3 separate regions of the Homo sapiens genome follow, and regions 1 and 2 are each linked to region 3. The links come from fine-mapping of genetic effects on gene expression. A gene starts in region 3. Each other region holds a variant in brackets. All regions are shown on one strand. Distances are between the middles of the regions. Region 1 has its middle 26 kb from the start of LINC02446. Region 2 overlaps KLRD1 (killer cell lectin like receptor D1). Region 3 holds the start of KLRK1-AS1 (KLRK1 antisense RNA 1).

Region 1 (2,770 bases), 220 kb after region 3:
CTCAGAGAGAGGAAGGAGGAGAGGAATAGATGAAGCATAGGAGATTTTTAGGGCAATGAACCTATTCTTTACAGCACTGTAATGGTAGATATATGTCATGCATTTGTCAAAACCCATAGAATGTAAAATACAAAGAGTGAAACTAATATAAACCATGAACTTTACTTAGTAATAACATATCAATATTAGCTCATCAATTATAACAAATACACCACACTAATGCTAGATATTAATAGGAGAAACTGGGAGGAGGGTGAGTGAGTATATGGAAACTCTCTGTACTTTCCACTCAATTTTTCTGTAAAACTAAAACTGCTCAAAATTGTAATCTATTTAAAAAAAAATTCTAATGACATCACTATATACATATCAGGAGGGATAAAATTTAAAAATAACGACAACACCAAATGATGGCCAGTATGCAAAGAAAATGAATCACTCATGGGTATACAAAATGTTACAGCCTCTTTGGAAAACAGTTTGGAAGTGTTTTATAAATCTAAACACGAACTACCATAGGACTCAGTAATTGCATTCTTGGGCATTTATCTCAGATAAATTAAACATGTTATGTTCACACAAAAATGTCTATTCCTGTTCATAGCAGCTTTATTTGCAATAGCAAAAAAACAAAACAAAACAAAAAACCCTGAAAACAACAAAATATTCCTCAATAGGTAAATGTAATCAAACTGTGATACATCCATACCTACTTGGCAATAAAAGGAACAAATTATTGATACCTACAAAAACTTGTATAGATTTTCAGGAAATTACGTTGAGGTCACAGACCGTATGATTTCATTTACTTAACAGTCTTGAAATGATAAAATTATAGAAACAGAGAAGGAGTCAGGAACAAGGAATGGAGAAAAGGAAGCAGGTGTGGCTCTAAAAGGGCAATAATAGGGAGCCTTGTGATAGAATCTCTCTGCATTTGTATCAATGTCAATAACTAAGTTGTGATATTATACCATGATTTTACAAGATGTTACCATTAGAGGTGCTTTGGTTTGAATGCTCCTTCCAAAACTCAGTGTTGGAATTTAATAGCCACTGTGACATTATTGGGAGGTAAGACCTTGAAGAGTTGATTAAAGTCATGAGGACCTCAATCTTAAGAATAGATTAATTCCCTCATGAGAGTGAGATCGTTATCTCAGGAGTGGTTCTGTTGTAAAAAAA[G/GCT]CTCTCTCTCTCTCTCTCTCTCTCTCTCTCTCTCGCTGTCTCTCCATGTAATGCCTTCACCATGGGATGACCCTTGCCAGATGCCAGTGCCATGCTCTTGGACTTCCTTGGTTTATAGATGCATAACTACAATATTTTCCTCTGTCTTCACCCGGCATTCCCCTCTGTGTCTCTGTGTCTTTTCCTATCTCTTAAAAGAACATCCATCATTAGATTAAGGACCCCTTAAGGCCCACCATAATCTAGCATGATCTCATGATCTTTACCTTAATTACATATGCAAATACCCTTTTCCCAAATAAGGTCATAAATAAGGTCATGTTCACATTCTTCAGGGTGAGAACTGGAGCCTACCTTTTGGGGGACACAGTTTAACATGCTATACTACTGAATTAGAAACTCTGGAAGTGAGACTCATCAGGCTGTGTTTTCCAGGTGAATCCGATCTTGATTCATGATAAATGTTTGAGGATATGGATAAGCTAATTACCCTGATTCCTGATTTGATCATTACACAGTGTATACATGTATTGAAACATCACACTGTACCCCATAAATATGTACAATTATTATGTGTCAATAAAAAATAAAATAAAACAAAAAAAAACCTATACAATAGTGTGAAATGCTGTTGGGATGCTGGCCTGTGGCCAAAGCTGGTTCTGGTAGTGTAACCAGGCAAGCCAGTGAAGAGTTCAAGGGTATGTACTGGTCAATATCAGTGGATCTTACTACTAGTTTCCAGTTTCTCAAAATTAGAAACTCTGGAAGTGAGACTCATCAGGCTGTGTTTTCCAGGTGAATCTGATGCTTGGAATAATAGAATGCTAATGCATGGTGGGCTTAATACCTAGGTCATGGGTAGATAGGTGCAGTAAACCACCATGGCACATGTTTACCTATGTAACAAACCTGCACATCCTGCACATGAATCCCAGAACTTAGAAAATAAAAATAATAGAATGTCAGGACTAAATCCTCATCTATCAATAATAACCCTGAATGTAAATGTATTAAGTTCTCCAATTAAAAGATATAGAGTGCTAAATTGATTTTTTAAAGAATGACCTAACTTTATGCTTCCTGCAAGAGAAGTACTTCACCTGTAAGAGAAGCACTTCACCTGTAAGGACACAATAGACTGGAAGTAAAAGGATGAAAATGATATCCCAAGTGGAGACCAAATGAAGACAGGAGCAGCTGTATTTGTATCAGTTAACTAGGCTATAATTGAAAAACTATAAAAAGAGACAAAAATGGTCATTATGTAATTATAAAGAGGTCAATTCAGCAAGAGGATATAACAATTATATAAATACAGCTGGCCCTCTGCATTCACGAGTTCTACATCCACAGACTCAACCAACTACAGAACGAAAATATTTTTAAAAAAATATCCAATCTGTACTGAATATATATAGTTTTTATTATTGTCATTATTCCCTAAACAATAAAGTATACCAAATATTTTACATTGTATTATGTTTATAAGTAATCTAGAGATGATTTAATGCATACAGAAGGATGTACATAAGTTTATACAAATTCTATGCCATTTTATATCAGGTACTTGAGCATCAATGAA
Region 2 (2,770 bases), 35 kb before region 3:
GGTATTAAATTTTGTGAAAACTTTTTTTCTGAATCTATTGAGATGCACAGGTGACATTTATCCTTCATTCTATTAATGTGGTATATTACATTAATTGATTTTGTATGTTAGGCTATCCTTGCACCCCAGGGATAAATGCCACTTGCTTATGGCATATACTCCTTTTAGTGTACTGTTGAATTAATTTTGCTACTACTTTGTTGAGGATTTTTGCATCTACGTTTACTAGACATATTGGCTTATAGTTTTCTTGTGGTATCTTTGACAAGCTTTGGTGTAATGGTAATGCTGGCCACATAAAATTAGTTTGAAAGTATTTATTCTTTTTAAATTTTTATATAATAGCTTGGGAAAGATGGCCATTAATTTCTCCTTAAATATTTGGTGGCTTCACCAGAAGAGCCATCTTGTCCTGGGAATTTTTTTGTTGTAAGTTTCTTGATTACTGATTCAATCTTCATTCTAGTTATAGATACGCTCATATTTTCTATTTCTTCATAATTCAGTCTTGGTAGGTCCTTGTCTTTGTGAATTTTTTCATTTCTTCTAGGTTATCCAATTTGTTGGCCTATAATTGTTCTTAGTTGTCTCTTACCATCTTTTATATTTCTGTGGCATCAGTTGCAATGTCTTATTTCTGATTTCATTTATTTAAGGCCTCTCTTCTTTTTCTTAGTCTAGCTAAAGGTTTGTCAAGTTATTTATATTTTCCAAAAACTAACTCTTAGTTTTGTTTACTTTTTATATATCCTTTCCATTCACTATTTTATTTCTGAACTAATCTTTATTATTTTCTTTATTCTTCTAAATTTGAACTTTGTTTGTTCTTTTCTACATTTCTAGTTGCTTGGGATATGTATTAGTCCATTTTCACACTGTTGATAAAGACTTAACTGAGAGACTGGGTAATTTGTAAAGAAAAAGAGGTTTAATGGACTCACAGTTCCACGTGGCTGGGGAGGCCTCACTATCATGGCAGAAGGTAAAACACATGTCTCACATGGCGGCAGACAAGAGAGAATGAAAGCCAAGCCAAAGGGGGTTTCCCCTTATAAAACCATCTGATTTCATAAGACTGATTCACTACCATGAGAACAGTATGGGGGAAACCACCCCCATGATTCAATTATCTCCCACTGGGTCCCTCCACCAACATGGGGGAATTATGGGAGCTACAATTCAAGATGAGATTTGGGTGGGGACACAGCCAAACCATATCAAGGTATAAAGTGCATTGTTTGAGACCTTTCTTTTTTCTTAATGCAGATATTCATCACTATAAACTTTTCTTTTAGCCCTACTTTTACTACATCCCATAAGTTTTGTTAGACTTTATTTTTGTTTTCATTTATTCTAATGTGTTTTTAAATTTCCCTTTTGATTTATTCTTTGCAGATTGGTTGTTCAAAAATGTATTGTTAAATTATCACATATTTATTAGTTTTCCTTTTGCAACTGATTTCTAGTTTCATTCCCTTGATGCTGTAAAAGATACTTGATATGACTTCAATTTTCTTAATTTTCTTAAGACTTCTTTTATGACCTAACATATGATCTATCCTGCAGAATGATCCATGTGCACTTGAGAAGAATGTATACTCTGCTGCTGTTGGATGGAATGTTCTGCACATGTCTGTAGGTGACTTGACTTGCAGTGTTGATCAGGTCATCTGGGTCTTTGTTGCCTTTATGTTTGGTTGTTCTATCCATTATT[A/T]AAAGTGAGCACTGAAATCTCCTACTGTTATTGTATTGCTATCTATTTCTCCCTTAAGTTCAGTCAATGTTTGCTTTATACCTTTAGATACTCTGATGTTGGGTGCATATATATTTAAAATTATTGTATCCTCCAATGTGAATTGACGCCTTTATCATTATGTAATATCCTTCTTTTTTTCTTGTGACAATTTTTGACTTAAAGTCTATTTTTTATAATATCAGTAAAGGCATTTTTTGTTGTCTTTTAGTTATTATTTGGCGAAGGATTTTTGCAGTCTTCTTCAACCTTCATGCTAGTCCAACTGGCTTTCTTTTTTTCTTGGTAGATTCCAGGCATCTAGAATATCCCAGGTCCTGTCAGTGCTCTGAGATAAACAGGAATAAAGCTAGCTCCTCAGGCAATCTCCAGAAAATATGGATTATCAGTTGTTTAGTTCAACTTTTTCCCCCAAGGAGAAGCTGAGAGTTAAAGGTTTTGGTCCACTCACTCCATCTTGATCCAAGGAGTGGTTGAAACTGCCAGCTCACCCCACCATCTATGTTCTTGCTGGTCCCACGCAGCCAGGCTATGCTTGGTTCTATCAGTACACTGAGACAGGCTAGAGAGAAGCCAGTCTTAGGAGTAGCCCCTGGAAAAATTGGGGAATTGGACATGCCATCCATCATTTATTAACCAAGAGCAAAGCTGGGAGCAGGGGAGTTTCTCCCTGGTTTTTTGGCACTGTGCTGGGGGCAGGAATTAGGGAAGGAGTGTACCTTAGATTTCCCTAAGGCTTCAACATGAGTAGTTTCACCAACAGCATTGGAGCATCTCAACTAGTTTCTTAATTTCCCACAAAGAAAATTTGTCTATGAATTTTTAGTTGAATTGGTGCATTTGTAGAGAGAAAAGAGACCAGGGCTTCCCACTCTGTCATCTTGCTAATTTTACTCCACCATTTATTTTATAATTTAAATATATAAAAATAAGATACATATTTATAATTTATGTGTATGTATATGTATATATTTTAAATTTAATGTATATATAAAAACATTTGCTGTATTTCTAAAC
Region 3 (2,770 bases):
TTGGTGGCAGTCTGTATGGGGATACATTCTCCTCCAGGGGTGGTCTCCAGTCCTCTCTCATGAGGGAGTGCACTCCCCTACCTCATTGAAGGGGCCCTCAGGAATGACAAATTGAGACAAATAAACCCAGACTCTCAGCAACACAGAGAGAAAAAAAAAAAAAAGAAACTGGCCAGCAACCTAGCTTAAAGGATCCTCACATACTGTGGCGACAACTTTGTGCACAGGCCAAGAAAGAAGAAGCTGTGGGAGCCAATAAAGTATTTCCTTGGTGATCGGGACTAAAAAAAAAAAAAAAAAAAAAGCCACAGGACGGTAAAGCATTCCTTAGTTAGGACGTACCAAGGAGAGAGAAACTGCAGGGTCAGTAGATTATTCCTTAGTCGGGATGTCTTGGAGGTTAAAAATAGGTGAGAAATCCCCATAGAAGGGGTGTTGAACCTCAGAAAGAGGTGAGAAATCCCCATGAGGCGGGTTGAACCTCAGAAAGAGGTGAGGAATCCCCATGGGAGGGGGGCGTTGAACCTCACACAAACTCCCAGTAGTAAGAAAAATATTCAGAACCCCCCTTTCCTTTCTTCTTGGGGGAAGAAAGAATAGCCCCACTGCCACCAGTCCCTTCCCTAGGGAAAGGGGAAGGAGGGGGAAAACAGCAGCATAGGTGGCTGGCATGGAACAGGAATTAAAATAAATTACAGAATGTGTAAGCAAAAACTCAGTTGTATATAAGAAAACCCAATTCCCCCCTGAGGAAGAGAAAGAGCCGGAGTCCTTTAAAAATTAACTGCCTGTTTTCTGTGGCTAGTGAGCCTTATCTCTCCCTTTCCCAGGCATTATGAAGACCCTATTTCTCTAGCTGTGCAGCTGCAAGGTCACTAGACAGATAAACTCAAGTCATAAAACATGTTTTTCCTTGAAAAGAAATGATGTCATGTATGTCTCAATTGAATAACTGTCTTTGTTTCTTGCTTCTGTTATACGCTTCCCCCTGCACAAATCTTCCCCCACCCACGAAATGCTTAAAAGGTAACTTGACTCTTTGTTTGGGGCTCAGTCCTTTGGATGTTAATCCAAGTGGACCAGTGCACCTAAATAATAAATATCCTCCTCAATCCCTTGGTCTCTCTGATTCCTTATATATCCCGATACATTTCTGGGGGCTCATCAGGATTGGAGATGACAGATTTACTGTCCCCTTTGCCTGCGATACTAGGTCCCCGGGGCCAGGAGAGACCCGGCATCCAAGGTGTGCCACAGCTGAGCTTCACCCGGATATATAGACCAGCTCTCCCCACGTCCCAGCACCCTGCCTGGCAGCGCAATGGAACCGAGGATGGGGCTGCAGGACGATACCAGCACTTCAGGAACTGTGGTAAGGAGTATAGGCCCAAGGCAGGAAAGCCCGTCCCATAGGGACAAAGGGGAGCTTGATCACCTCCCAGGGACTGACCACTAATCCAACCCAGAGTGGCTGGGGGCAGCAGGAGTGGCCTGCCAATTTGGATGAAGCTTATGTCCCCACTAACAAAGTGAAAGTGGTTCACTGGATCTGGAGACAGGAACTGGGAGTGGTGTGTGTATGTGTGTGAATATGGGAGCCTAACTAGGCTCACCCAGGTCATGAGAGAGGCTCATTCCATCCGATGAGGACTCCTGCAGTAGGAGTGGTGTATGTGTGTGAAAGTGGGAGCCTAACTAGACTCACCCGGGACATGAGAGAGGCTCATTTCGTCCAATGAGGAATCCTGGGGCAAGGAAGGTGTGTGAAAGTGTGTGAAAGCGATGGTCTCGGGAGAGGCCAATGCAGGGAGTGACGTGGGGAGGCACAGATCCCTTAGCACGGGCTGTGTGCTCTGAGGCGAGTGTGGGGGGAAATCAGACCTAGGACATTGCATACAGCTGATAGGACGAGCTTTGCAGCTGTAGCAGGCTGTGACAGGGGAAGACACCTTCCTGGCTAAGCAGTGTCCGAAACTCCTGTAATAGGACCGGGTCTGCTGGACCTGAGAGTGAAAGTGAGAGTGAGAGTGAGAGTGTGCCGCAAGGGAGGAAATGGGAGGGAAAGCGTCAAAACCAACTCCTTTGGAGTGCATGATAAAAATTTTAAAGAAAGGATTTAGAGGTGATTGTGGGATGAAACTGGATGTTCAAAAGTTAAAGACATACTGTGAATTACAATAGCCCTCTTTTAGTGTCAGATGGCTGGCCGAAGGCACTGTAGAGAAATTGGCCGTGTGTTTTAAGGTGGTGACTAGGGTCGGAGGACAGCCAGGGCATTCAGACCTAGTCTTTATATTGACTCATGGCTAAATGTACGCAGCCCTGCCTAGCAGTTTATTGTAGAATGCTCGCAGCTCACGCCGAGATAAACCAACTGTGCTGGCAGCTACGGAGTTAAAGGGAAAGTCACAGAGGCTTCTAGCACCACCGATCCAAAAGTGAAAGTGAAAGTCAGCTGCCCTGGAAGCTATGCAGACCAAAAAAAAAAAAGAGTCTCAGGAAAGAGAAAACCAGTTTTGCAAGAATCACAGGATGGAATAGAGATCCTTCCTACCTATATTCCAATCTATCCCCCCTTACCAAGGCTAATTGCCCCTAAGGAGGTAAGTTCAAACAGATACATGCTCCCACTCTCACCTGAGAAGGAGAAATCGGAGCTCCAGGAAGTTAAAACGAAAGGCTCAAAAAGGTAGGCAGGCCGTCTCAGGTCAAGTCATGCCCAAGTTATGCTTCTGCCTCTTAAGAGGACAAGCAGACCCCCACTAGGACC

The links. PIP is the estimated chance that this variant, and not a neighbour inherited with it, causes the effect.
Region 1: its variant is fine-mapped to the expression of KLRK1-AS1 in whole blood (INTERVAL, PIP above 0.99).
Region 2: its variant is fine-mapped to the expression of KLRK1-AS1 in blood mononuclear cells (TOPMed, PIP above 0.99).

What each region holds. Positions count from the first base shown.
Region 1 is chr12:10,577,696-10,580,465 of GRCh38, forward strand. No RefSeq gene overlaps it. Among named protein-coding and RNA genes, the nearest start is that of LINC02446, 26 kb to the left of the region's middle. The variant G/GCT (reference allele first, on the strand shown) is at 1,186.
Region 2 is chr12:10,327,873-10,330,642 of GRCh38, forward strand. It overlaps KLRD1 (killer cell lectin like receptor D1), which reads left to right. Exons shown (of 6, transcript NM_002262.5): 6 at 1-1,736. Among named protein-coding and RNA genes, the nearest start is that of LINC02617, 9.0 kb to the right of the region's middle. The variant A/T (reference allele first, on the strand shown) is at 1,715.
Region 3 is chr12:10,362,662-10,365,431 of GRCh38, forward strand. KLRK1-AS1 (KLRK1 antisense RNA 1) reads left to right here and starts at 1,108. Exons shown (of 4, transcript NR_120430.1): 1 at 1,108-1,372. RefSeq lists enhancers at 1,579-1,628, 2,089-2,158.